4 linked regions of the Homo sapiens genome follow. The protein of the gene in region 2 binds, or shares a complex with, the protein of the main gene of each other region. Each region holds a gene or a part of one and is shown on either strand. Other genes may lie near its edges.

Region 1 (7,024 bases), on a different chromosome or scaffold from region 2:
GGGCATGGTGGTGCATGCCTGTAGTCCCAGCTACTCGGGAGCCTGAGGCAGGAGAACTGTTTGAACCCAGGAGGCGGAGGTTGCAGTGAGTTGAGATAGGGGGAGGTTGCAGTGAGCTGAGATCGCACCACTGCACTCCAGCCTGAGCAACAGAGTGCCACTTGGTCTTAAAAAAACAAAAAACTAAGAAACACAGAAATGTTTAAAGGAATAAGTGAGACAATGGTGATGGTGGCCACTGATCCAGGGTGGCTGGGGGCCAGGTGGGCACAGCTGGGCTGGTCCTGGCAGGCACCCCCACAACACCAGATATTTGGGCTTCAGTGTTCCACAAATGCTGTTTTTTACTGCAATAATTACTCATCTATTTTGGTATGTTTTGAGAACAAAGATAAGTAGCAGATCATTCTGAGGATATGCTGCTGTTAGGAAAAGACTGATATTTTTTGGTGTCTTTTATGAGACAGGGTCTTGCTCTGTTGCCCAGGCTGGAGTGCAGTATCGTGATCATGGCTCACTACAGCCTCAACCTCCTGGGCTCAAGCCATCCTCCCACCTCAGTTTCCCTAGTAGCTGAGACTATAAGCGCACACTACCACATGTGGTTAATTTCTTTTCCTTTTGTAGAAGTGGGGTCTCACTGTTGCCCAGACTGGTCCCAAACTCCTGGGCTCAAGTGATCCTCCTGTCTTGGCCTCCCGGGGTGCTGGGATTATAGGCATTAGCCACCACACTCAGTCCAAGCCTGAGATTTTCTTTTGAGATGGAAGTTTCTCTGTTGTTGCTCAGACTGGAGTGCAATGGTGTGATCTCAGCTCACTGCAACTTCTGCCTCCCGGGTTCAAGTGATTCTCCTGCCTCAACCTCCCAAGTAGCTGGGATTACAGGCGCCTGCCATCACGCCCAGCTAATTTTTTAGTAGAGACGGGGATTTCACCATGTTGGCCAGGCTGGTCTTGAACTCCTGACCTCAGGTGATCCACCCGCCTTGGCCTCCCACCAGGGCTGAGATTTTTAAATGACTCAACTTAGGCATCTGCCCAAGAGAAATGAACACAGGCAACCATACAAAAATGTGTGCGTGAATGTTCACAGTGACACTGTTCGCAATAGCCAAAAAGGGGAAAGAGCCCAGATGCCTATCAGCAGACAAACACATAAACAAAATGTAGGCCGGGCGTGAGCCTGTAATCCCAGCACTTTGGGAGGCCGAGGCGGGCGGATCACGAGGTCATGAGATCGAGACCATCCTGGCTAACACAGTGAAACCCCGTCTCTACTAAAAAAAAAATACAAAAAAAATTAGCCAGGCGTGGTGGCGTGTACCTGTAGTCCCAGCTCCTCAGGAGGCTGAGGCAGGAAAATGGCGTGAAACCAGGAGGCGGAGCTTGCAGTGAGCCCAGATCACTCCAGGCTGGGCGACAGAGCTAGACTCCCTCTCAAAAAAAAAAAAGTGGTAAGTATCCGCTCCACGGAGTATCGTCTGGCTATAAGGAATGAGGCACTGACACAGGCCACAGGGTGGATGAACCTCAAAAACACGTTGCTGAGTGACAACCACCAGGCTCGAAAGGCCTCATGGTCTCCGTTCGCATGCATGGGAAATATCCGGAATAGGCAACCCCACAGAGACGGCAGCTGCCTCATGCTCATCAGGGACTGGGGCTGGGAAGTGACTGCTGATGGAAATGGGCTTTCCTTTTGTGGAGACGGAAATGTTCCGGCCTAGATAAAGGTGGTGGTTACACAACCTGTGACTGCACCAAATGCCACTAAATTGTGCACTTTAACTGAAGTGTTAGTATGTAATATTATCCTTTTTTTTTTGAGATGGAGTCTCGCTCTGTCACCCAGGCTGGAGTGCAGTGGCGCGATCTCAGCTCACTGCAAGCTCCGCCTCCCGGGTTCACGCCATTCTCCTGCCTCTGCCTTCCAAGTAGCTGGGACTGCAGGTGCCCGCCATCACGCCCGGCTAATTTTTTTGTATTTTTAGTAGAGACGGGGTTTCACCGTGTTAGCCAGGATGGTCTCGATCTCCTGATCTGCCCGCCTCGGCCTCCCAAAGTGCTGGGATTACAGGCATAGAGCCACCACGCCCGGCCAATATTATCATTTTTTGGAGACAGGGTTTCACTGTCACCCAGCGACCTGCAACCTCAAACGCCTCAGGCTCAGGTGATCCTCCTGCCTTAGGCTCCCAACTAACTGGAACTACAGGTGCACGCCACTACACCCAGCTAATTTTTATATTTTATGGAGAGACGTGGTTTCTCCATGTTGCCTAGACTGGTCTCTGAACTCCTGGGCTGAAGCCATCCTCTAGCCTCAGCCTCCCAAAGTGCTGGAATTATAGGCCTGAGCCACCATGCCCAACCTGAAGTTCTTTTTATTTTTTTAAGTGACAGGGTCTTGCTATATTGCCCAGGTTGGATTTGAACTCCTGGGCTCAAGTGATCCTTCCACCTCATTAATTTTCTTTTTCTAGAGACAAGGTTTCACTCTGTCGCTCAGACTGGAGCGCAGTGGTATGATCATAGCTCACTGCAGCCTCAAACTCCTGGGATCAGTCGATCCTCTTGCCTCAGTCTCCTGAGTAGCTGTGACTATAGGCACACACCACCTCATCTGGCTAATTTTAAGTTTTTCTTCTTGCCCAGGCTGATCTCGAACTCCTGAGCTCAAGCGATCCTCCTGTCTTGGCCTCCCAAAGTGCTGGGATTACAGGCGCGAGCCACTGCAACTGGCCCATTAAATTTTTAGTAAGTATGTATGTATTACTCTTACAAGCAGCAGAAATGACAGGAGTGTGGACACTCCTGGGGAGGGAGAAGAGAGCAAACTGCCATGCTGGTGGACAGGCAGGCCAGGAAGCCGTCTGCTCAGCCACCGCCCCTGTGCTGAGGCTGGCCCCCTCTCAAACAGGCTTTCCCAGACCACTGAGTACTCACCATGGGGTGATTCTGAGCCGTCTTCAGCAGTGACAAGGGAAGCTGAAAGGCAAATAAAGCCACATGATTTGTCTGTTTGACCAGCGCCTGGGAGCTCTGGTCTTGAGTCCCACCCATGACTCATAGATGGTGCGGTGCGGTTGAGGGGGCACAGGAGTGCGTGTCAATCACCCCCCACTGGAAATGCCATTTCCTCACTCTGCCCAGCCCTGGAACACACACCTGCCTCTCAGATTAGGAAGAAAAGCCTCACACACCCTCCCTACTCCCGTAGGTGGCCACCACCTGCTCTTGGTGCTGAACACTCTGGTCAATTTTTTTTTTTTTTTTTTTTTTGAGACGGAGTCTCGCTCTGTCACCCAGGCTGGAGTGCAGTGGCATGATCATGGCTCACTGCAACCTCCACCTCCCGTGTTCAAGCCTCACAAGCAGCTTGCCTCAGCCTCCCAAGCAGCTGGGGACAACAGGCATGCGTCACCACACCCAGCAAATTTTTGTATTTTTAATAAAGGCGGGGTTTCACCATGTTGGCCAGGCTAGTCGCAAACTCCAGACCTCAGGTGATCCACCCGCCTCGGCTTCCCAAAGTGCTGGGATTACAGGCATGAGCCACCGTGCCTGCCCTAATGCTTGTATTTTAAGCTCAAACTGGTATCTCTGAGATGCATCCATGTTGATGAGGTTACTCTGAGTATGGAGTTGAGGACACTACAGCTTGGAAACCCGAGGAACTTGCCCAGTACTATGGCGCTAGGAGGAGACAGAGCTGGCCTGGTCCTGTCTGTCTGAAGCAAGCACAAGACCATGCCTTGCAGGGCAGCCCCAACTGGCCCAAGACTGACACTGCCAGGCCCCAATGCAGGGGTCAATCCCATCAGAGAAGGCCACATCTGAGCTGGTTTTATTTTTATTTTTTTAGATGAAGCCTTGCTCTAAAAATACAAAACTTTGCTGGGCACGGTGGTGCGCATCTGTAGTCCCAGCTACTTGGGTGCTGAGGCAGGAGGATTGCTTGAGCCTGGGAAGCAAGCCTGTCACCCAGGCTGGAGTGCAGTGGTGTGATCTTGGCTCACTGCAACTTCCACCTCCCGGGTTCAAGTGATCCTCCCGCCTCAGCCTCCCAAATAGCTGGGATTATTAGGGGTGCACCACCATGCCCAGCTAATTTTTGTACTTTTAGTAGAGATGGGGTTTCTCCATGTTGGCCAGGCTGGTCTTGAACTCCTGACCTCAAATGATCTGCTTGCCTGGTCCTCCCAAAGGGCTGGGGTAACAGCATTGAGCCATCACCCCCCGCCTGAACTGGGTTTTCTTTTTTTTTTTTTTTGAGACGGAGTCTCGCTCTGTCGCCCAGGCTGGAGTGTAGTGGTGCAATCTCGGCTTACTACAAGCTCCGCCTCCCGGGTTCATGCCATTCTCCTGCCTCAGCCTCCCGAGTAGCTGGGACTACAGGCGCCCACCACCATGCCCGGCTAATTTTTTTTTATTTTTATTTTTGTATTTTTAGTAGAGACAGGGTTTCACCGTGTTAGCCAGGATGGTCTCGATCTCCTGACCCCGTGATCCGCCTGCCTTGGCCTCTCAAAGTGCTGGGATTACAGGCGTGAGCCACCGCACCCGGCCCTGAACTGGGTTTTCAAAGACAGGAAGTCACCAGGTAAGGTGAACTTTCAAGATTTTTTTTTTTGATGGTGACAGGCTTTTACTATATTGCCCAAGCTGGTTTTGAACTCTTGGCCTCAGGGAATCCTCCCATCTCAAGCTCCCAAGTAGCTGGAATTATAGGTATGCACCACCACGCCTGGTTTCAAGATGTTTTTTTCCATCATTACTGAATTTCTTTATTATGTCAAATATGTAGTATTTCTATTACTGGGGGGGAAATCAACACTTTCATTTTGGAAACAGAAAACTCAACCCGTACGCTGGGAGCTGCCTCGGGTAACGCAGAGCTGTGCCTGGGTGCGGGGTCCTATAACATGCCCGTTCTAGTACTGCCATGAGGAAGGCCCCAGCACCAAGGGGCCCTGACAAGACAGTGCCTCATGGGACACAGGCTTCACCTAGCCCTGTCCTGGTGACTGGAATTCCAGGTGGCCCTGACCCCAGATGCCTTTGCTGGGAGTCCTGCCCTGGCCACCACCCTAATCCACAGTGTGGCTGCTTTTCCAGGTGGTGTGAACTTGAAGGCCTCTCCCTGTGGAGGCCGGAAATGGCCCTCAACCCTGGCCGGGTGGCTCCCCAATGAAAGGAAGGGGTTGGGGAGGGAATCCTACATCCCACAGCCCCTTCCTGAGAAGAGCTGCCCAGGGGAGGTTGGTGCCAGCAGGAAGCCAGGCCCAAGCCCACTTCCTGCACCGGCTTCCTGGAAGAGCCAGATAAGGGGGAAGAAAGGGCCATGTGGCCCCGGGGCAGCTGCTAGGAGAGGCAGGGGAGGAGGGCTGCGGGCGGCTGGGTGTGCATCTGACTGGGTGCCACCAGCCACAGAGAAAACACAGGAGCCACAGACTGGCACACGGGTCTCATGCCCAGGTCGCCCTTTACTGTGAAGAAGCCGTGGGTTTTCCTCAGCAAGCCTGTTTTCTTTCTCTAGTCCGTAACAGGAACGGGACCTTGGACCTCCTCCTGGATCACCAGGGAAGGCGCAGAGGTCAGGCTAGCCCTTAAAGGCCCACCTCTCATTCTGCAGAGGAGGCGCCAGCGCCCACAGCAGAAGTGACCTGCCCAGGGACATCCAGCAAGGCCCTGGCAAAGCTGCCCAGAGGCAGGTAGCTTGTAGACACACCTTCCATGCCAGTGACAGACCCTCTTGGGCCACCACCTGGTCTCAGCGACCAATAGCACAGCCTGGGAGGACCCACGGCCTCCTTGCCTGTCACTTGCAGTCCCATCCAAAAAGCAGCAGAAAGAACATCTGAGAAACAAAGAGAGCTGGTGGGATGGCCACGGAGGCTCTCGCCTGTAATCTCGGCACTTTGGGAGGCTGAGGCGGGCAGATCACCTGAGGTCAGGAGTTCCAGACCAGCCTGGCCAACATGGCAAAACCCCACCTCTACTAAAATACAAAAATTAGCTGGGCGTGGTGGTAGGCAACTGTAATCCCAGCTACTCAGGAGGCTGAGGCAGGAGAATCGCTTGAAACCAGGAGGCAGAGGTTGCAGTGAGCCAAGATTGCGCCACTGCACTCCAGCCTGGGCAACAGAGCGAGACTGTTTCAAAAAAAAACAAAAAACAAAAAAACAAAACAAAAGAAAGACTGGCTAGGCGCCGTGGCTCATGCCTGTAATCCCAGCACTTTGGGAGGCCAAGGTGGGCGGATCACGAGGTCAGGAGTTCGAGACCAGCCTGGCCAATATGGTGAAACCCCATCTCTACTAAAAATACAAAAATTAGCCAAGCATGGTGGCGCACACCTGTAGTCCCAGCTACTTGGGAGGCTGAGGCAGAAGAATCGCTTGAACCCAGGAGGCAGAGGCTGCAGTGAGCTGAGATTGTGCCACTGCACTCCAGCCTGGGTGACAGTGACACTTCATCTCAAAAACAACAACAACAACAACAAAAAACCCAAATAGGGTTGGTGCAGACCCACTCTCACAACACTCCTCAGGCCCGCTATAGAGTCAAGGCAGACAGGCTCTGCCACACTGGCCGCCACACCCATTCCTGCCACCTGACCTTTGCTTCTGCTATTGCCTCTGCCTGGGGTGACCTTCCCCAGGCTGCTGAAACGTCACCTCCTTTGGCCAGGCCCTTTTAATGGCCACCCTCTGCCTCATGGGTGTTTGTTTCCATCATAGGATGCAGCCAGTCTTTAATTACCTTGTTTATTACCTGTGTCCCTCGCTAGACTGGAACACTCAAAGTGGGTGTGGACTTTGTCCAGGGCCAAGCACAAGGCCAGGCACATGAGAGGGACTCGGTAAATATTTGCTGAATAAATACACAAGAAAAATGCACACACTACCCAGGGAGGCATGCAGGGAAGGCAGAACACTCGCCCCACCCCACAGGTAAGGGAAGGAGTGGCTGCGGGACAGGGAGCTGCCTGACTCCCAGGCCCTCCCAGGCTGCAATGG
Region 2 (7,526 bases):
CATAAAAGCATACGTAAGTATTTTATTAATATATATTGCCCCTTATGAGGTGAAACAGAGGGCCTCCTGAGATATACCGGTTCTCCAGATCTTTAAGGTAAAGTATATGCCCGTGTAAGTATCACCAGTATGTTCCGTGGCCTTGCCATTGGCTAGTGAGCAAAGTGTATCATGTTTACACAGTTCTACAGATTGGCCCCATCTACTTTGTTAACAAGCAGTCTTGCCTTTTCCTGTGTCTCCCTAATCTTGCTAACCTCTGATTCACCAACCACCATTACTATGCCACCTAGGATTTGCTGTCTGCCTCATTTCTTTTCTTTTCCATTTTTAGATAGGGTTTCACTCTATTGCTCAAGCTGGAGGGCAGTAGCTCCAACATGGCTCTCTGCAGCCTCAACCTCCCTGGCTCAAGCTATCCTCCTGCCTCAGCCTCCCAAGTAGCTGGCACTACATGTGCATGACACCATGCTCAGCTAATTTTTTTTTTTTTTGGTGGAGATGGGGTTTTGCCATTTTGCCCAGGCTAGCCTCAAACTCCTGGACTCAAGCAATCTTCCTACCTCAGGCTCCCATAGTGCTGAAATTACACGTGAGCCACTGGGTCTGGCCTCATCACCTTTCTTAAGCTCTGTCTTCAAATCACTTTTTTTCTGCCTCTCCATTCTTTTATTACTTATTAACCTCTGTGAGCACAGAATATGCCTCTCCATTCTTACTGCTACAAATCAGAAACGCATATCTGAACTCCTGCTGGCCTTTTTATCTTCAGTTTTTACCTCCGCTAAATATTAATGTCAGGACCAAGCGTGATGATTCACGCCTGTAATCCCAGCACTTTGGGAGGCCGACGTGGGCGGATCACCTGAGGTTGGGATTTTGAGACCAGCCTGGCCAACATGGTGAAACCCCGTCTCTACTAAAAATACAAAAATTAGCCAAACGTGGTGGTGCATGTCTGTAATCCCAGCTACTCGGGAGTCTGAGGCAGGAGAATCGCTTGAACCCGGGAGGCAGAGGTTGCAGTGAGCCTAGATCGCACCACTGCACTCCAGCCTGGGTAACAAAACGAGACTCCATCTCAAAAAAAAAAAAAAAAAATTAATGTCAGGTCATTTTCCTAAAGTGTATTTGCACTTCTTCTCAAGCACTGATTTAAGTCTTACCTGTTTTGTAAAACCTCCCAAGATTTGAACTCATATCCATCTTTCCCTTCCTTAAGCACTTAAAATGTGCACAGCTGAATCTATCCAATCATAAAAAATGGCCATGAACAAAACACCGTATTGGAATAAGCTTTGGGACTTTAAAAAAAAAAAAAAGGTTATTTATGGTATAGTCTATGTCCTTGAATAACAATGAGTACTCATTATATATCAGGCTCTTCAAGTATTACTTTTAGTTCCTCAACAATTAGATGTAGTTTTGTGTAGTTTTCCTCATTTTACAGATGGGGAAACAGGCACAGAAGGTTAAGTATGCTCAAAGTCAAACAAATAAAAATTCAGGCAGTTCATGAGTCAGTGTTCTTAATAATGATCCTAAACTGCTTCTCAATTAACAAATCACTTATATTTGATCTTTTCCATCCCTTAAGTAATGGAGTTAAATCTACCTGTCTTTATTACCCTAAATGAAAAAAGTAAGTAAAGCACTTTGTAATTTATAGTGTTAAATGAAGACTATCAATTACCTTTATTTGTAATTTGGAATATTCATTTTTTTCATGCAATAATTATTTCATTTTTATAAGTAAAGGTCTGTAACTATTCAGGAATTTCCTTGTAAGTAGAGACGCATGATCTACTTATGTCCTTTTCTGCCTAGGAGAACTCTAGTTAGATCTATTCAATATATATTACTGATTGGTTAACACCTTTGCAACTTGTAGGGAAGTAAAGCATAAACGCGTAAAAGGAAATAAAAGTTCTCATCACATAAGGTTAAAAATATTATTTTATTTTAAAAAACTGCTATTGTGATAGTTTTCCATAAACTATTCAGAGAAGCGCAAATTCAGTTTCCTAGGATTCTACTAGAAGTCTGATCCTTTAGGTTAAGGTTTTCTGCTCAAGATTTAGATTCAGAAGTAATGGAATAAAATTATCTATTACAAGCATACTTTGGTTGATACTTTATCAGTGATATAATGTCATTTAAATGAGCATTACTTTGAGAGGTTTCGACTTAAGGGGCAAGTTTCACTGTTAACTCTTAATTTTTTAGTAGTCAGATGTTTATGTGTATCAGTTTTCCCTTATTGGAGCTTTAATGTAATTCTTCTTTATGAGATGCTAAGGTTTCTACATTCATGTACTCCCAAGGGTACATGGCTAATATAGATAAATCACATATGTAATGTTTGCATCCAGATGTAATTCATTTTGTCTTAGTAAACCGACTTTTATTTATCCATAGGTTTTCTCGCTACATCTGTGATCCTTACAGACTACAGAAAATATAGCGATTTTAAGACACATGTAAAAAAGTTTCCAGCCAAAGAGATTTTGTGATGCTCCATAAACACTGTTCATCTGTTATTTATCTGGCATATTAATTTAATGACAACTACACAGGGCAATAGACTTACAAAAGCACACTCTAAGGGATGAAAAGCCATAGGGAGTATTCATTTTTTTTTTTTTTTTTTGAGATGGAGTATCGCTCTGTCGCCCAGGCTGGAATGCAGTGGCACAATCTTCGCTCACCGCAAACTTCACCTCCCAGGTTCTAGTGGTTCTCCTGCCTCTGCCTCCCTGGTATATGGGACTACAGGTGCCCGCCACCATGCTGGCTAATCTTTGTATTTTAGTAGAGAGGGGGTTTCACCACGTTGGCCAGGATGGTGTTGATCTCTTGACCTTGTGATCCACCCGCTTTGGCCTCCCAAAGTGCTGGGATTACAGATGTTAGCAACTGCACCCGGCCTCATTTTTATAAGATCACACAGAGGTTTTTTTGTTTGTTTGTTTTTGAAATGGAGTTTCGCTTTTGTCGCCCAGGCTGGAGTGGAATGGCGTGATCTCAGCTCACTGTAACCTCCGCCTCCCGGGTTGAAGCAATTCTCCTGCCTCACCCTCCAGAGTAGCTGGGGTTACAGGAACCCACCAACATGCCCAGCAATTTCTTTTTTTAACAAAACTCCTAACACCTCGTTAATCATTAATTAGTCTTTGGGTTTTGGTTCAACACCTAACATTTGCAAATCACACAATTATCTTTGTTCTTTCATTAGCGGAAGACACTTTCATTTGTTACCCTGAGAATATGAGACATTCACAATCTAATTCCTGACTACATTTGATTTCAAACAGATAGGAATAAGTTCCAGAATATAAAATATTAACTATTTGGGAGTATCTTGTGGGTATGCTCTAATTAAGAAATGCTTCCTTTTCCGAGGAAAACTGCTGACATTGCAAGAGTTATTACAAAGCCACAAATCTTAAGAAAATACATGTTTAACTGAAATTATAAAGATATTTTGCAAAAAAGGGAAATCGCTCCTGCTGGTGTTTTGTGTATAAATCTCTTTCTAACTTCAAGCTCTCTCAAGTTAGGGCAACAGTAAATGAAGTGGGAACAGTATCGCATTGGGAAATATCTGAAATGATACCTATGGGACTATCTAACGAAACTGAGGCCCAGAAGAATTGAAGTGACCTGTGCAATGACACCAATTTGTTAGCAGAGCCAAGATTAGAACCAAGTTTGGTGCCTTCCTGCATCCTTCCTGCATCGGTCCTTTCTCGGTGCTGCAGCAGCCTTTTACTTACTAATTTCACCCTGAAGAAAGGTAGACCATCCTGGCGTGGCAGAAGCGTGGACATTCGTTTTCTAAGGGATGGTCACACACCTTTGCCTATTTGCATTTAGTTTCTTTAAAAAGTAAAAACACCTCCATTTTGGAACACTTTTAGAGACAAAAGCAGAACATACGAAAGTGTATTTCACTGCTGAGTTCTTAAGAGGCGTACACCGTGTGGTTATAACGTGCGCAACTCTGTCCCGGGCAACTGAACTTATTTTTAGCGTTATTTTCGGCTTCTGCTGCAGAAAACTAGGGATTCAACTACCCGCACCTACGTTTCACACAACAGCACTCGTCTCTCTCCTTCACTCCTAATAAAAACACCTTACTTCGTTTATTCCTGCCTGCTCTACCTCGTCTCAACATTTTCTCTTGTTAACTTCCACCACACTGCCTTTTACTCGGATTGGAAACCCACTCTCCCCCAACTTCTGTCTCATACCCCCAACTTCTGTCTCATACCCCCAACTTCAGGAAGCGTCTTCCTTTTTTCCGCCTCTCGTTCGCTTTTGTCTTACGAGGCTTCCGGAACACGGCCCAGAATTACAGAGAAAACACACTGCGCACGCGCACTCTCTCGTCACCGCTGTGCGGCTTCTGTTTGGTTGGCCAGTTCGTCCCAATTTCCGACTCACAGGGCTGCGGAGCAGCAACTCTCACGATATTTGCTGCGACCCGCAGGCGCTATCCGCTGCCGGGTTCTGGCGCGCCCTTTCAGTTCTGCTTGCTGTCGGCACCGCTGCGTTACCCGGAACCGCCGGGCCGAACAGCATGACGTCCGCTTTGGAGAACTACATCAACCGTATCCTCAAGCTGGCCGCCGCGGGCGTGAGCCGGGGTCGCGGAGAGGCCGCGGTCGGGGATCGGTGGGAGGTTGGGAGGCCTGGCCTCGGCGGGATCCTGGGGGCGGGCGAGGAGATGAGGGCCCCGGAACGACCCAGAGTTCGCCGGCGGCGCCTCGAGCCTTCCCGCTGCTGCGGGCCCAGGGGTCCTTTCCATTTTGCCTGCAAAACCCAAATAAAAACCCAGTGTGATTATTCCGAACTTTTCTGTCTTAAAAAAAATGTACGCTCTTGATTCTTACTTACTATTTCCCTATGGCATAAGTGTTAAAGTTTGTGAATAAGATGAACAGTCGTCCTGGCGGCGACAACAGTTTTGCAAATCTTTGTACTTGTTTTATTCACATAATTTGCTCGTTCGAGGATAGCAAAAAGTTTAACGATGGTTCACAGACTGTTTCTGTCCCTTTACCACTTGAAGTCCCAACTTGTTGGTAGAATGAAAAAAAATGGTTGCTGTTGTAATGGATTATAGTGAGGAGCAAGTAACAACCCCATGGGAAGTCTTAAAATAGACTTTACAAGTGTTACCGTTTTAAAGTCTTAGGACAAAAACACTACGTTAAGCTCAGGTACAAACTGGGTGACAAAAATTAAATACCGAATGCTTTTAATGATGCGTTATTGGTACCCTGTGACACTGCTTATATAGTTTCTTTACTTTTGAATTACAGAAGCCTGTCCTGGAAGACAGTTTTTTAACATGCTGGAAAATCGTCCAACATCGATTAATTTAGTACTCATCCACTTTTCATTTTAGAAATAAACAGGCCTAAGAAACGAAATATCCTGCCTGAAATAATAGATTGGTAACCTTCCTAGTAGAAAAGTGTCAAAAATCCAGGATATTTTGAGATAAGATACACCGATCACATACAGAAAGAGGTTTTCTTTTTCTATTTTTTCCCTTTTTTAATCATGTAATTATCACAAAGACAAAAACAGAAGCTTTTTTTAAGTTTTTTTTTTTTTTTCTTTTTTTGAGTCGAGGGTCTCACTCTGTTGCCCAGGCTGGAGTGCAGTGGCTTGATCATGGCTCAATGCAACCTTGAACTCCTGAGCCCAAGCAATCCTCCTGCCTCTGCCTCTGCCTCCTGAGTAGCTGGGACTATAGGTCACCAGGCCAGGGTAATAGAGATGGGGGTATCGCTGTGTTGCCCAAGCTGGTCTCACCTCAAGTGATCCTCCTGCCTTGGCGTCTAAGAAACTTTTAACGTTTTTATGTAGTGAACTTAGTGGCTGTGTTGAATACTTATACCTAGTTGTCATATTTATTCTAAAAATTCAAATCATTCCCTTGCCAGAGTCTGTTTTCAATTTGCATTCCCTAAGAAACACTTTCTTTGATTCAGTTATCAGGAACTGTTGCCGTTATTACATCAGATGGGAGAATGATTGTGGTAAGTCTTTGGAATTTTCATTCTCTGCTTTCCTGTAGGTTTATTGGTTGCAAGTTTTATGTGAAACCTCTAATCTCTAATGCCTAGACAGCACATTACACCCGTAGTGCAATTTTATTATAATTCAGCTCTTTATCACTTTGCTGTCAATCCATGTTTTCCTCACTAATAAACATTGTGTGTTACCTACAAGGTTTCTCGGAGCTAGAATAATAGATTCTGCCCTCAGAGAGCTCCTAGTCTGTAGACCTTTATTAAACTTACTTTTCTTCTTCCATTTTTATTTCCTTCCCCATTCAGCACCACATGAATCAGAATTTTTTTGAAATTTTGCATATGCTTAGTAACTTTTTAATGATTTAGATACTATTAATATCTAGATAACATTTAAGGCTTGTATACAATCTTAATATTCTTTGTTTTTAGGTTGTGTGACATGTCTTCTGTAGGACACATTATGATGATTGACTCTCTATATATACACATATATATGTAAAATTGGCTTGTTCCTTGAAGTTGTTTCTCCCTTGCTAATTTATGTCATATAACTAAGATAAAACGTTCCTATAGTGATACTTGTATTTGGAATTTGATCTGAGGAATTCATCTCAAGATTTTTGGGTACTTGGTTATTTCTTCACTTACAATTCATACTTTGAATGCTTTCAAAAGAATTTTAAGGCTACTGAACTTTCTCTATTTTCTAACCTTACCTAGTTTCTTTAAATAATTTGATCCCTTATTTTTCCATTCTTCAGTTTTGCTTTTGTTCATTTTCTTTTTAAGCCTTGTGATTTTTTTTCACTGGGTCCTTAGTGACTATTATTAGTCAAAGTTCTAGCTTTGTCCTTTACTAAATTTATATCATGTGCCAGGTGCATATATGTTACATTATTTAATGTACAGTAAAAACTTATGAAGAATAAGTACCCCTGTATTCTAGATTAGGAAACAAGTTCAGAGAAGGTGACTCACTTTCTCAGAGTCACAAGGGTAGCAAGTGACAGAACCAAACTGGGATTTAAATTTGGTTTGACATCAAAGCCAAGGCCAGTTGCCTGGCTTCTTTCTTAAGGAAGCAATGATGTTTGCTTAGGCACCTCACATTGTATTTTTTCAAATATGGACAGTTTGACATATTTTAATTTCAACACTTCAGGAAGCCTATTGCTGTTAATAGATATTTGCATTTTTTTTTAATTTGGTGAAAACCTTAAGTTTAAATTTTCTTATTTTTGTTGACAGGGTAGATAATAAACTGAGAAATTATTTTTAATTTTAAAGAAGAATGAAAGTGATATAAAAAGCATCTTAAGTTCTAAAGTTCAGTAGTTCTGTATTTCTTTGACACATAATTTATTTGATGGGATAATGTGTAAAATGAAGTCAAGAAGTTATGAATGGATGTTTATGATAACAACCATTTGCTAACTAGTTCAATAAATACTCCATATTTTGTTTCTCTTCCAAGTT
Region 3 (7,221 bases), on a different chromosome or scaffold from region 2:
AAATCTTAGGCCATTCCAAGGGCCACACACACTTGCCACTAAACCACCCTTTTTTTTCTTTTTTTTTTTTTGAGACAGAGTTTTGTTCTTGTCACCCAGGCTAGAGTGCAATGGCGCGATCTTAGCTCACTGCAACCTCCTCCCAGGTTCAAGCGATTCTCCTGCCTCAGCCTCCCGAGTAGCTGGGATTACAGGCACACACCACCATGCCCAGCTGATTTTTATATTTTTAGTAGAGACAGGGTTTCACCATATTGGTCAGGATGGTCTCGAACTCCTGACCTCAGGTGATCCACCTGCCTCGGCCTCCCAAAGTGCTGGGATTATAGGAGTGAGCCACAGCACCCGGCCTAAACCACCCTTTTCAACACAGTCCCTGTTCTCAAAGACCTCCTAATCTGATAGGGATATCAGATATCATCATTCCAACAACACTCTAAACTCCCTTTAACTCTGTCTTTATATTTAACTATCTGGCAGTATGTCTAACCTAGCCCGGGACAGTTGCAGACAACAGAACCCACTTAAGCAGAAAGGGATGTATTGCAATAACAGACTTTGGCGGAACTTCCAGGAACAACACCTAACCCACAAAATAACACCAATTACACTGCAATGTGATAAGTGCTAAAGCAGAAGCTTGGGGGCCAGGCATGGTGGCTTATGCCTATAATCGTAGCACTTTGGGAGACCAAGGCAGCAAGATCACTTGAGGCCAGGAGTTTGAGACCAGCCTGGACAACATGGCAAGACCTTATCTCTATAAAAAATACAACAATTAGCCAGGCATGGTGGCACATACCTGTTATCCCACCTACTGGAGAGGCTGAGGTGGGAGGATCACTGGAGCCTGGGAGGTCGAGGCTACAGTGAGCCATAATCATGCCACTGCAATCGGCCTGGGCAACAGAGTAAGACTGTCTCAAAACAAACAAACAAAAGTAGTAGCTAGGAAGAGAAAGAGGGTCTGGGGGAAGTAGAGAAGTTAAACAGATAACTGAATAAGCCTTTTAGGATAAACAGAAATCCTCTAGCAGAGAATACTGTTCTTTGACCTCATTAGAACCCTGATTTATTGGCCTCTATTTTCTTCCAATCTATCAGCCCTCCCCTTTTTCTTCAGTTTTCTTCCAATCCAGCTTAGATTCCATAGCCCATCATTCCAACAACACCCTAAACTCCCTTTAACTCTGTCTTTATATTTAACTCTCTGGCAGTACCTCTAACCTGGTCAGGGACAGTTGCAGACAACAGAACCCACTTAAGCAGTAAGGGATGTATTGCAATAAAAGACTTTGGCAGAACTTCCAGGAACAACACCTAACCCACAAAATAATACCACCTTTGCCACAATCCAGGAAAGTTATGGCTATCACTGCAGCAAGCCACCAAACCAGGGAGCTATTGACTGGAGAAATTTACTGCCATGACTGGCAGCAAAACTGGATGACTCACACCCTCCTTCTTTCCACATTTAACTCAGTTCCAAATTCAATTTTCACCTTAGGTGCAAGGGAGTCAAGAAAATGGTTTTTAGTTTTCCAGATTTTTCAGGAAGAGAAGACATATTAGAGGTTAGAATGTGTCTTGAGCAAGCGATGTCCTTGCCATACCCAGAAAGGTTTTCTCCATGCATGCACTAAACCGCTGGATATGCTGGAAAAAAATTTTTTTTTTCCTTGCATCCTACATTTCTCTAGTAACCTCATTCTCCCACACTCCACAGTGACTTTCAAATCTTCTACAATATTCTCAAATTTCTCAAAACTGGATCCTCAACTGGATCCTGGATAATCCCTTATCCCCATCGGTTAGCACATCCTCTCCTCCTCTTTACAATCAGATCTATGAAAAATACTGTGTAGGTTCACTACCTACATTTTCTTGTCCAAATCCTTGCCTCATATCTGGCTTTTGGCCCAATCACACCAACAAAATAACTCTTGCTAAGGTTACTGTGACCTCCATGATGATAAAAGCCAAAATATGTTTTTCAATCTTCATGTTATTTAAATTCTAGAAATTTCTATCACAAATCATTCTTTTGCTTCTGAGACATTCTTCCAGTCCTCCTTCCTTTCTTCTGTATCTCCTGTAGGTTCACCTGTTCTTCACCATTAAATGTTGGAACTAGTCAAGGTTCTGACTTAGCTGACCTTACCCACACCTATGGCTCAATTCATGTATATACAAATTATGCCCAATTTTATATTCCCAACACAAATCTCTCTTCTGAGCACAAAGCTGTATTTCAAACTGCCTCTTGGATGTCATGAATGACCCCACACAATCAATCAATCAATCAATAAAAACTGATCTCAGCTGGGAGCAGTGGCTCAGGCCTGTAATCCCAGAATTTTGGGAGGCTGAGGCAGGTGGATCACTTGAGGCCAGGAGTTGGAGACCAGCCTGGCCAATATGGTGGAACCCCATCTCCACCAAAAATACAAAAATTGGCCGGGCACAGTGGAGGCGCCTGTAATCCCAGCTACTGGGGAGGCTAAGGCAGGAGAATTGCTTGAACCTGGGAGGTGGAGGTTGCAGTGAGCCAAGGTTGCACCACCACACTCCAGCCTGGGCGACAGAGCAAGAACCTGTCTCAAAAAAAAAAAAAAAACAAAAAAAAACTGGTCTCTAATCATCTTCTAGTGTTCCCTATCCAGCTTGAGGGATTCCGTGATAGTGAGTGAATGGTACCACCATCTATTCAACTACATAAGCCAGAAACCTAGGAGTTACCTTTGATTCCTCTCTTCACTCCCTAAAATCAACCCATCACCAAGTCCCACCCATTTTACCTCCTATATACCTCTAGAATCTGTCCAATTCTCTGCAGTTCCACCCATATCTCAGTCCTCACTGACATCTCTGACCAGGATTACTGCATATCCCAAGTGGTCCACATACATCGACTAGGGCTTCCCCAACCCCCGTCTGTTCACACCACTGAGCCTGAGGGATCAAGTCCCCTCCTCCACCACACCCCACTGGGGGAAGACGGCTCAGTGGTATCTCATCCGTTTTAAAATAAAAGCTACAAATTCCTGCAAGGTCTGACCGCTATCACGTACAGCTTCATCTTGTACCATACTCCCTTCATTCTCTTTGTACCAGCCACACTGGCTCTTTGTGCTTTTAGTCATTTTCCTCCCAAGTGCCTCAGGGCTCTGAACAAGTAGTTCTCTATGGAAGGTTCTGCCTTCACTTCTTCACCTAATTAATTACAACACTTCCTGCAGCTACCAGCGCAGGCATCTTTTCCTCTGAAAAACCTTCCTGCTTATTTCAGGCACTCATAGCATCAGGCAGCAGTAGGAGGCATTTCCATGTATTAGTGAGGTCATTGTTTAACGTTTTCCCCACCAGAGTTAAACGCCCTGAGAGTAGGGACCGTGCCCGGTTCACAACATACCCCCAACGCGCTGCTAAATGAATATCAGCAGGACGACTGAGGCAATGACCACGTTCATGGGCATGAGTCTCAAATTTCTCAACAAGACTGTGCTCTGGAGAAGGAGTCGGACATTTCCTTCATCACTGTCTCTCTCAGGGGGGCATACAGTAGGCCCTGATCAAAAACTGCAAAATCAGTGGCAGAAACAAGTCAGCCTCCTCGGCCAAATGGGGCACCGGAGGAGGCTGGGACGCAGGCCTTTCTCCCTGGGAATGCCCGGCACAGGACTGGCCACGATGGGCGCTCTTGAAGAAGGGAGCCGCAGGGGCTGGGTCTTGCCGCCAGAGACCCCAAGGCTCCGCTCCTGCCCCGAAAGGGAGCCCAGGCTACTACTTACCACAGCTGGGGACTCGGGGCCCGCCTCCCACCCCTTGCTGTCAGCACCCTCAGCTGAGAAGGGCAGGTTCAGACTGCACAACCGAGGCGTCGCCTCCAGACTCAGGCAGCCACCCACCCCGTTCTTCCTCATACGTACTAGGCGTCAGCTCCAGGTCCCCGAGTCGCTGCGCTGAACTAAACGCCGACCCCAGTCAGCCAGCGCGTTTCCACCCACAAGACCCAGCGCGCCTAGGGCGGTCGCCAGCTCCGTCCACCAATCCTGGTATCGCACTCTCATGACGTCAGAAAGATATGCCCAATAACAAGAGACTATCCGAGGGCGGTGCAAATGGAAATATTGAAAGCCGATTGGTTCTTCCAAGCTGGAAGTTGTGGAGGAAGGACTAATTTGGAACCAATTGCGTGGCGCCTGAGAGCGGCAGCGCGGTCAGTGGCGGCGCTGAAGAGACCGGTTGCCGCCATGATAGAACAGCAGAAGCGTAAGGGCCCAGAGTTGCCGCTGGTTCCAGTCAAGCGGCAGCGGCATGAGTTGCTGTTGGGAGCGGGGTCTGGCCCAGGAGCCGGGCAGCAGCAGGCGACGCCGGGAGCCTTGCTGCAAGCGGTAAGTGAAGAAGCAGGCGGCCTTTGGCCCTCAGCTCATCTTCCTCCCCTCAGAGCGCTGTATCTGGTGATCCCTGACCCTTTCCCGCATTGCGGGGGCAGAACGAGAGTTTCTACGCAGAGTTAAAGCACATAAACACTGTAAAAGCTCCCCATAGCCTGCGAATGCTGCGTACGTGTTCCCCCGTTTGGCGCCCGTTTTCAGCCTCTCGACTGCCCTGAGATAGCATTAGAATTAGAGTTGAGGACCTTGGGCTCAAAACCCTGACCCGGGTTTAAGCATCCTGACTCTAACATGGATCTGGCATAGAACAAAAATTCCGAAGAGTGTGTAGAATGAATGAATGAGGGAGGGAAGAAAAAAGGGAAATGATTTGTGTTGGCTCGTTTTGGGACTTTGGGCAAGTTGCTTTTCCCTTTATTTCTCTGCACTAGTATTATTAACAACTAAATAGCAGCTAACATTCATTGACTCTTGTACTAAAGTGTTTCGTATATGAAATTTCCATTGATCTTGGTAGCAGCCTGTTAGGAACGTTATTAACCCATTTTGCAGATGGAAAAACAGACTTACCAAGTACGTGATAGAAGCAGATTTCGAACTGAGAAACCATGCTCCTAACTACATTTTTTGTAAGATAGAAATAGTGATCACACTTCTAATGTCCTGTTTAGGCTCAGACGAGGAAATACGAGTGTCCTCACATCTCCTCAATAAATCCTGCTGGCACCGTCCTCAAAATAGGTCTAGAATTGCTACTTCTACCATCTCCATCATTGCCTCATGGCCTAAGCCATTATTATCTCATCTGGCATTTTTGTAGTGGGACCCTAACTGGTCTTCCACTTTCTACCTTTGTATCAGCACCTGTTACCAAGCCAATAACCAAAGGAATCCTTCTAAACATCAGATCACATTACACTCTGCAGAAAACTTTCTGGTGGCTTTGTACTTCATCCAGAGTAAAAACCAAAATTCTTGTAATTATTTGCCCTCTTTCCCTTTACCTCTCTGACCAATTTCTTATTGCTCACCTGGCTTCAGTTACTCTCTCTTCCAAGCCTCTGCTTCAGGACCTTTGCATTTGCTGTCCTCTCTGTGGGATTGCTCTTCACAAATGTTTACATGGTTTACTATTCAGCTCCTGCGAATATTTGCCCAAATGTAATTTTTTCAGTGAGGATTTTCCTGACCACCCTATTTTAAATTGCAGTACCACATACTGTGGAACCCACATTGCTTCTCTCTCTCTCTTTTTTTGTTTTTTTGTTTTTAGACAATCTCTCTGTGTTGACCACTGGCTCAGTACAGCCTCCACCACCTGGGCTCAAGTGATCCTCCTGCCTCAGCCTCCTGAGTAGCTGGGACCACAGACACACACCACCACATCTAACTAATTGTATTTTTTTGTAGAGACAGGATTTCACTCCTGAGCTCAAGCAATCCGCACACCTTGGCCTCCCAAAATGCTGAGATTACAGGCATGAGCCACCATCCCCATCCCTTCTTTTGCTCTATAGCACATGACACCACATATATAGTTTGCTTGTTTTCTCTCACCTTCCCTTCTCCCTTCCCCCTTTCCCACTGGAACAGCGAGCTCCATTGTTTATTTTGTTCATTGCTGTTTGCCCAGTGCCTAGCACGTAACTTCTTTTTTTTTTTTTTAAGATGGAATTTTGCTCTTGTCACCCAGGCTGGAGTGGAGTGGCGCAATCTCGGTGCACCGCAACCTCCGCCACCCGGGTTCAAGCGATTCTCCTGCCTCAGCCTCCTGAGTGGCTGGAATTACAGGCGCCCGCCACCATGCCTGGCTAATTTTTGTATATTTTTAGTAGAGACGGAGTTTCACCATGTTGGTCAGGCTGGTCTCAAACTTTTGACCTCAAGTGATCCGCCCACCTCAGCCTCCCAAAGTGCTGGGATTACAGGTGTGAGCCACCGCGCCCAGCCTGCACATAACATTTTTTAAAACTAAATGAATCTGGCCGGGCTTGGTGGTGGGTGCCTGTAATCCCAGCCACTCGGGAGGCTGATGCAGGAGAATCGCTTGAACCCAGGAGGCGGAGTTTGCGATGAGACGAGATCACGCCATTGTACTCCAGCCTGGGCAACAGAGCAAGACTCCTTCCCCAAAAAATAAATAAATAAATAAATAAATATGAAAATGCTGGGAAGTACTGAAGAGATTTGGGGATTATGGGTAGTATACTTCTCCCATTTGACAAGTGAGCATATCAGCCCATGTTTAGATGAATTGCCCAAGTGTCATCTTGGTGTCCAAGACCATAATCAAAACTACTTCACCCATGCTGAGGATCCGTTTGCTATGAAAAAATAAGAAATAAAAATAGGCCAGGTGCAGTGGCTCATGCCTATAATCCCAGCACTCTGGGAGGCCAAGGCAGGCAGATCACATGAGGCCAGGAGTTTGAGACCAGCCTGGCCAACATGGTGAAACCCCATCTCTACTAAAAATACAAAAATTAGCCGGGCGTGGTTGTGCATGCCTGTAATCTTGGCTGCTCGGGAGGCTGAGGCACCAGATCCCTTGAACCCAGAAAGCATAGGTTGCAGTGAGCCGAGATCACACCACTGCACTCCAGCCTGGGTGACAGAGCAAAACTCTGTCTCAAAACACACAAAAAAAATTAAAAATAAAACAAAACTATTTCACCCAGTACTCCATACCAAGCAGAGTTGTTGGGAAAGTCAGTTCCATCATTTGTTAAATGAGCCAGGCCAAATGTGGTGGCTCATTCCTATAATCTTAGTGCTTTGGGAGGCCAAGGAGGGAGGCCAGGATTTTGAGACCAGCCTAGGCAAC
Region 4 (7,024 bases), on a different chromosome or scaffold from region 2:
GGAGGCAGAGGTTGCAGTGAGCCAAGATCTTGCCACTGCACTCCAGCCTGGGCAGCAGAACCAGATCCTGTCTCTGGAAAAAAGATAGCAGCAGTCACCCCTAGGTGTTGGGATTGGAGGTGATCTTATTTTCTTTTTATTTTTCTGACTTTTCTAAATCTCTGATAAACTTGCAATTAAAGAAAAAATAACAGAAAATGTGTTATATGCAGTATTATTGGAGGTACTATTAATATTTGCAAGTGTTCAGACCTAATTGCGGGGAAATGATGGCAGGATTCTACAGGTATATTTTAGAGCAGTTGTGAGATGCATGTAACTATTTGTAAAGGTTCATACAGATGATTACTAGATCAGCATAAATAATATGTCTGTGGACGTTTTCTGCAGGACTTTGATAACTTGTTACCTGAGTGAAATTTAATTCCTGGGCGATTCTGGGAGATGGTAAAGTGAGGCGGAAGGAGCCAGCGGCCAATTCCTGAACTATTCTGGGAAACGGTGGCGTGAGGCGGAAGGAGCCGGTGGCCAAGGTCCCAGTAGTGTCACATGATCTTCCCGCGTGTTTGCTGCACTGGGAAAAAATGTTGAAGAATTAGTTTGAAAATTGCCCCGTTGGCCAGGAGTGATGGCTCACTCCTATAATCCCAGCACTTTGGGAGGCTGAGGTGGGAGGATAGCTTGAGCCTGGGAGGTCGAGGCTGCAGTGAGCTGATTGCACCATTGCACTCTAGGATGACAGAGTGAGACCCTGTCTCAAAAAAACAAAACAAAAATTGCCCTGATCCACACAAATTCTTGGTTTTGTTTTTATAAATGTGCTTCTATAAAATGAAAGCCAAAGTGTTCTGTTATTTCAGTTTTTTTTTTTAATCTCCTTTTAGGTTAAAAATTTTGCAGTTATTTATCTTGTGGATATTACAGAAGTGCCTGACTTCAACAAAATGTATGAGTTATACGATCCATGTACTGTCATGTTTTTCTTCAGGTACGTTATCTTAAAGTTGTTACTGAAATTGAATATTGTCAGTTTGGAAGCTTAATGTAATCAAGATCTCTTTAGATTATTTTATTTTGAAGGAAGTTGGTTGTACAGTCATGTCCCAAAATCGTTTGTATCACCAGGCAATCAGTGTGAATCTTTGAAATAATTTTCAAAGTAACAATTCTAGTTTTAGCATTTACTCAGTAACAAATTACCCTTTTGAAATAACTTTGCGGGGAAACCTAGGTGAAGTGTAATTCAATGAAAGATGTTGTTACTGACATTTTAGATACCTGGAACTATAATCTGTTCATCAAAAATGTTGTAAAATCACAAATTTAGGCCGGGCACAGTGGCTCAAAGCGCCTGTAATCCCAGCACTTTGGGAGGCCGAGGTGGGTGGATCACAAGGTCAGGAGTTCGAGACCAGCTGGGCTAAGATGGTGAAACCGAGTCTCTACTAAAAATACAAAATTAGCCGGGCGTGGTGGTGCATACCTGTAATCCCAGCTACTGGGAGGCTGAGGCAGGAGAATCACTTGTACCCAGGAGGTGGAGGTTGCAGTTAGCCGAGATCATGCCATTGCACTCCAGCCTAGGCAACAAGAGCAAAACTCCGTCTCAAAAAAAAAAATCAAAAACCTAATTTATTAAATATGTTATCATCAACTTCGGTGTCCTTTTTTATATCCAAGAGGAACACCTGAACTACTTTGCTTATAAATACAAGATTATTTTATCAGCTCAAAAATTTCATTATGGAAATTTAATGGGGAAAGAAATCACCATCTGATGCTGTTTTTACTTGTTTAGTTACCATAGAGGTTGGTGAATTAGCTACATGAGCATTAGACCATTCTCCAAAAGTGGAGCCTCCTACTCGGTAAGGAAGGTCAGGTGGGTTGTATAGGGTATGCGTTAGTTTTGTATTCTTTGTAACAAATTAGCACGCATTGAGCAGCTTAAATCACCCCGCTTTTCTGAGCTCACAGTTCTGTAAGTCAGACATCCAGGCAGGGCCCGCTGGATTCCTGCTCAGGGTCTCACAAGGTCTGAACCATGGGCTGGGTGCTTATCTGGAGTGTTTGAGGGGCTTGTTTGGGTTGTGGGCCGAGTCTGGCTCTTCGTGGTGGTGGGTCTGAGATCTGCTTCCTTGCTGCTGTTACCTGAGGCCACTCTGCTGCCAGAGACCCAGTTACCCTCAAAGCCAGCACTGGCATGCCGGCACATTGAGAACTTTTCACACAGGTTCTCTGACCTGAAAAGTTCTGCCTGAGAAAATGCTCTGGTTTTAGAGGACTGTGATAAGATTAGACTTGCCCAAATAATCCAGGATAGTGACCTTGTTTTATTTATTTATTGAGATGGAGTCTCACTCTCACCCAGGGTGGAGTGCAGTGGCACCATCACAGCAAGCTTGAACTCCTGGCTTCGAGCCATCCTCCCGCCTCAGGCTGCCAAAGCGTGAGGCACTGCCGTGGTTCTGGGCGTCGGGATACGCTCCCCTGGACACGCCCTTGGCTTCCTAGGTGCCTCCTGTTAGGTTGAGAAGATCTGTGAGGTGCACCCTGCATTTCTTGTGAACTTTTCATCTTTCCTAGGTTTCAGCAAAGGTTGCGTGGCTGACCCTCATCCTTTTCTCTACTGTGTGTTCAGCAGCCATTTCTGAATTTCAGCCCCTTTGGCCATCCGGAGAGGCTAAAGAATTTATTCCTTTTGTTAACAGTTCTTACACTAATTTGCCTCTTTCCTCTCTTGAAGGCAGCACCTCCGAGACTTTGCTTGGAAGTTTCCGCAGCTAAATATCCCGAGTGTGTTGCTTTTGAGCTCTGACTTCCTATAACTGCGGACCCCGTGTCCCTGTTCCTCGGCCACTCTGTAACGGGGGTCCCCTTTTCTCCGTTTCCCAGTAACACACTCCTCACTTCCTTCCAAGCCCACACCAGGTGTTCCTGAAGTCCATATTTCTGTTAACAGCCTGTTCGAGGCAATAGAGGCCTTTTCTATTTTGCCCCTCAGAATTCTTCAGGTGAGAACAGGGAGGGCCGTCTTAGGTCTCTGCCCCCCACAGCGTGCAGTGGAGGCCAGCCTGGGGCTGGAGATGCTGTGAGGGGCAAGGAGGCTGCAGGCAACAGCCTTGGGTGGCGGGAGCAGCCTACTTAGTGTAGTTTGATATTTTTAGGACTGATGCTGTACTCAGAAAAGGAGATGAAACTTCCTTCTGCTGTTTCTGTGATTTAGAATTTTAAGACAAACGGTACTTTAGTTAACTTATGCACCAAACATATATCTTGAGCCCCCACCAGGTTTGTGGTCTAGTGGTGGAGCCTAATGTCAGATAAGACAGGATTCCCACTCTCATAGGACGTTGTCTGATAGAAACAGCTGAGTAAATTAGCAGGGGGTTCTGAAGAAGTGAAAGGAGGCAGATGTTTATGAGATATAAATACCGAAGAAGTACACCCAGGTCAGATAGGGCTGCAGGGAGGGTGCTACGGGCAGCCCCCAGTCATTGTAGAAGGAGCTTGGTGCATGCTGCATGTAGGGCCTGCCTGCAGCATGGAGAATGAGAGGGCGGCCAGAGGTGGGCTCCAGACCCTGATCAGATTTGCCTCTCCTGAACCAGAGACTTCACGGGGAATACTTTCTACGGAATAGTAGGTGGAAGCCAAATGCATGATCTTGTGGAAGTGAACGTTAAAAAACAGTCTTTAGGTGGGGTATGCCTGCAGCCCAGCCACTCTGCAGGCCGGGGTGGGACTGGAGCTAGGGGTTTGAGTCCGGCCTTAGCAACATAGCTCGCATCTCTAAGAAAAATAATCAGGCCGGCACAGTGGCTCACGTTTGTAATCCCAGCACTTTGGGAGGCCGAGGTGGGAGGATCACTTGAGGCCATGAGTTTGAGACCAGCCTGGCCAACATGGGGACACCCCATCTTTACAAAAAACTAGAAATTTATCTGGGTGTGGTGGCTCGTGCCTGTGGTCCCAGTTACTTAGAGGGCTGAGGTGGGAGGATCATTTGGGCCAGGAGGTTGATTTTGCCACTATGCCCTAGCCTAGATGACAGTGAGACCCCATCTCAAAAAGAAACTTCAACAAACCAGGATAAATTTATGCCAGTACAACAAAGGGTTAATATCCTTATCTTGTAAAGTGCACATGAGTATTCATGAGGAAAAGAACTAGTCTCTTGAAAGATAAGTAAAGAATTATCTACTTCCCTAACCATAAACATGCAAAATGTCATCTTCATTTCATAGTTGAAGGGCTTTTAATACAATTTATGTCATTGCTCATAAGAGCACTGTGAAAAACTTACACATTGCTTTTATCAGGTAAATTAGTACAAATTAGATGGGGGTCTCATTTTGTTATCCATGTTGATCTCGGACTCCGGGCCTCAAGTGATCCTCCTGCCTCAGCCTCCCATAGAGTTGGGATTACAGGCATGAGCCACTGCGCCTGCCCTCCTTTGACCTTTTAATTTCCCCTTAGAATAACTGTCCTAAATAAATACAGAAAAATGCAGGAAAGAGCATGGTGGACAATGCATTGCATCTTTAAAAACACATTTAGCTGCTTCCTGTATTCTCCTGCATCATGGCATACACTCTCGATTTTATGCGTTCTTCAGTGATGTTAACAAGAGCTTGTCACAGTGGGAAAAATACGGCATTGTTTTCAAGGAATTCTTTTTTAAAGAGACTTCTATGAGAATGGATGCCCTTGTTTCTCGTTGCAGGAACAAGCACATCATGATTGACTTGGGGACTGGCAACAACAACAAGATTAACTGGGCCATGGAGGACAAGCAGGAGATGGTGGACATCATCGAGACGGTGTACCGCGGGGCCCGCAAAGGCCGCGGCCTGGTGGTGTCCCCCAAGGACTACTCCACCAAGTACCGCTACTGAGGCGCCCTCAGTCTGCGCGGATAAATGTCGTGGAGCCCTTTTTGTATGGAAACGTTTTAAGCTATTTAAAGCCTTTGGAAAATACAGGAAGCTCCAGGGCTGGAGCACCTCTGAGATGGAATTGATAACATGGTCTTAACTCACCGAAATAAACAAGCACGTGGTGAGAGGAGCAGGCCTACTTGTTTGTTCTCAGGAAACTTAATGAATAGATTACTGATTTTCCTAGTCAAAGTTAATTCTTACCCTTGGAGTAAAACGAAGGTGTTTATCCTGTGAGCCTGTGCGTTTTGCATACTGGGTTGGTTTGCTGGGGCTGCGGTGACAGCATATGCCGCGAGCTGGGCTTTAACAGAGATGTGTGCTCTCACAGCTTTGCAGGCGGGGGTCTGAGATCAGGGTGTCGCGGGTGGGGGGTCACTGCTGAGGCCGTGAGGGGAATCTGCTCAGGCCTGTCCCTGGCTTCTGGGGGCTGCTGGTGGTATTTTCAGTTCCTTGGTGTGTGGATACTTCGCCCCATCTCTGCCTTCACCTGTGTCCTCCCTGTGTGGGTGCTGGTGTCCAAAATTTCCCCTTTTCGTAGTGACACCAGCTGTGTTGGATTGGGGCCCACCCTGCTCCAGCATGGCCTAATCTTAACTAATTACATTTGCAAGGATCTTATGTCCACAAAAGTCACAGTCTGAGGTGCTGGGGGTTAGGACTTCAATATATAAATTTTGCGGTTACACAATTCAATCCATGACAGAATCCAAAGGTTTACTCTGGTTATAAAAACAGTACAATAAAATATTGTTTATAGCCTTCCCTGTAAGGAATAGGAGAGCTATTTTTTATTCTTCCCAAGATTGTATTTGATGTAAACATATTTTCTGTAGAAGCCATGGCCCTTCAGTTCATATAGTTAGAAAATTTCCTTATTGGCCAGGCACGGTGGCTCACACCTGTAATCCCAGCACTTTGGGAGGCCGAGGTGGGCAGATCACGAAGTCAGGTGTTCGAGACCAGCCTGGCCAACATGGTGAAATCCCGTCTCTACTAAAAATACAAAAATTAGCTGGGCATGGTGGCGCGTGCCTGTAATCCCAGCTACTTGGAAGGCTGAGGCAGGAGAATTGCTTGAACCCGGGAGGTGGAGGTTTCAGTGAGCCGAGATCACACCACTGCACTCCAGCCTGGGCAACAGAGCAAGACTCCGTCTCAAAAAAAGAAAAGAAAATGTCCTTATTACAGTCTCAGGTTTCTCTTGCCCTCTGTCATCCTAGCAGTGTGGATGGTTGGTTGGGATCTTCGTGTCCCGTCTCAGCACACTCGAGCTCTGAAGTGAAAGTGAGGAAGGGCAGGGATGGGGGCACTTGAGCACACCGTGGGCCCTCTGACCTCAGACCCAGGCTCTGCCCCACCAAGTGACCTTGGGCAGGGTACCTTCTCTGAGCTTTGTTTCCTCCTTGGTAAAGGCGGATAATAGTGTCTGCCCTGCACACAGATGTGGACGCAGAAGCACGTGGTGCCTGCCGGGCACAGGAGTGGTGCACAGGGCTCGCTGCTGTCGGGAGATTGATTGCTGTTGTGGAAACGGGAGGGTACTTACAGAATGAAGCACATTTTTTACATACAGTACAAATGAGTGTGTGCTTTTTAAATGGATTTAAAATTCAAATGCAAATCTGCAGTTTAATCTCCCAAGTGCTGATTTTTCTATGTATAAAGTAGGAGAGTGCAACAGCGTATCGGAATGAGGGGCTAGGGAGAACGTGTATGTGACCTCGAGTACCTGGCATGTAACAGACACTCAGTATTACACTCCTGCTATTTCTCCAGAGCAGGTGAAACAGACGGCCAGGAAGCACACGAAGAGACACTCAGCATCACTGCTTGTTAAGGAAGGTGCAAATCAAAACCACAGTGAGACGCCACTTCACACCTACAAGTTCGGCTAGATACAAAAAGATCGCAACAAGCGTTTGCAAGGATGTGGAGAAATTGGAGCCCTCACACACTGCTGGTGGCAAAGTGGTAACACAGGCAGGCAGGTCGTCAAAAAGTTAAACATGGGCCGGGTGCAGGTGTCTCAAGCCTGTAATCCCAGCACTTTGGAAGGCTGAGACAGGCAGATTGCTTGA

The links.
Region 1: LSM8 (region 2) and LSM4 share a complex: the UniProt entries of both Homo sapiens proteins name them as parts of the precatalytic spliceosome.
Region 3: LSM8 (region 2) and SNRNP40 share a complex: the UniProt entries of both Homo sapiens proteins name them as parts of the U4/U6-U5 tri-snRNP complex.
Region 4: LSM8 (region 2) and TXNL4A share a complex: the UniProt entries of both Homo sapiens proteins name them as parts of the precatalytic spliceosome.

What each region holds. Positions count from the first base shown.
Region 1 is NC_000019.10:18,313,076-18,320,099, forward strand, and holds part of LSM4 (U6 snRNA-associated Sm-like protein LSm4), read right to left. Parts: exon of another isoform or gene 6,442-7,024; intron 4,606-6,441; exon of another isoform or gene 2,991-4,605; coding exon 2,949-2,990; exon of another isoform or gene 2,594-2,948; intron 1-2,593. UniProt on the Homo sapiens protein: Plays a role in pre-mRNA splicing as component of the U4/U6-U5 tri-snRNP complex that is involved in spliceosome assembly, and as component of the precatalytic spliceosome (spliceosome B complex).
Region 2 is NC_000007.14:118,179,642-118,187,167, forward strand, and holds the start of LSM8 (LSM8 homolog, U6 small nuclear RNA associated), read left to right. Parts: upstream 1-4,522; 5' UTR 4,523-4,582; coding exon 4,583-4,613; intron 4,614-6,012; coding exon 6,013-6,053; intron 6,054-7,526. UniProt on the Homo sapiens protein: Plays a role in pre-mRNA splicing as component of the U4/U6-U5 tri-snRNP complex that is involved in spliceosome assembly, and as component of the precatalytic spliceosome (spliceosome B complex).
Region 3 is NC_000001.11:31,293,784-31,301,004, reverse strand, and holds the start of SNRNP40 (U5 small nuclear ribonucleoprotein 40 kDa protein), read left to right. Parts: upstream 1-4,216; 5' UTR 4,217-4,253; coding exon 4,254-4,394; intron 4,395-7,221. Other genes in the region: ZCCHC17 (zinc finger CCHC domain-containing protein 17), read right to left, coding at 3,792-3,923. UniProt on the Homo sapiens protein: Required for pre-mRNA splicing as component of the activated spliceosome. Component of the U5 small nuclear ribonucleoprotein (snRNP) complex and the U4/U6-U5 tri-snRNP complex, building blocks of the spliceosome.
Region 4 is NC_000018.10:79,971,562-79,978,585, reverse strand, and holds part of TXNL4A (thioredoxin-like protein 4A), read left to right. Parts: intron 1-884; coding exon 885-988; intron 989-1,798; exon of another isoform or gene 1,799-1,868; intron 1,869-4,729; coding exon 4,730-4,901; 3' UTR 4,902-7,024. UniProt on the Homo sapiens protein: Plays a role in pre-mRNA splicing as component of the U5 snRNP and U4/U6-U5 tri-snRNP complexes that are involved in spliceosome assembly, and as component of the precatalytic spliceosome (spliceosome B complex).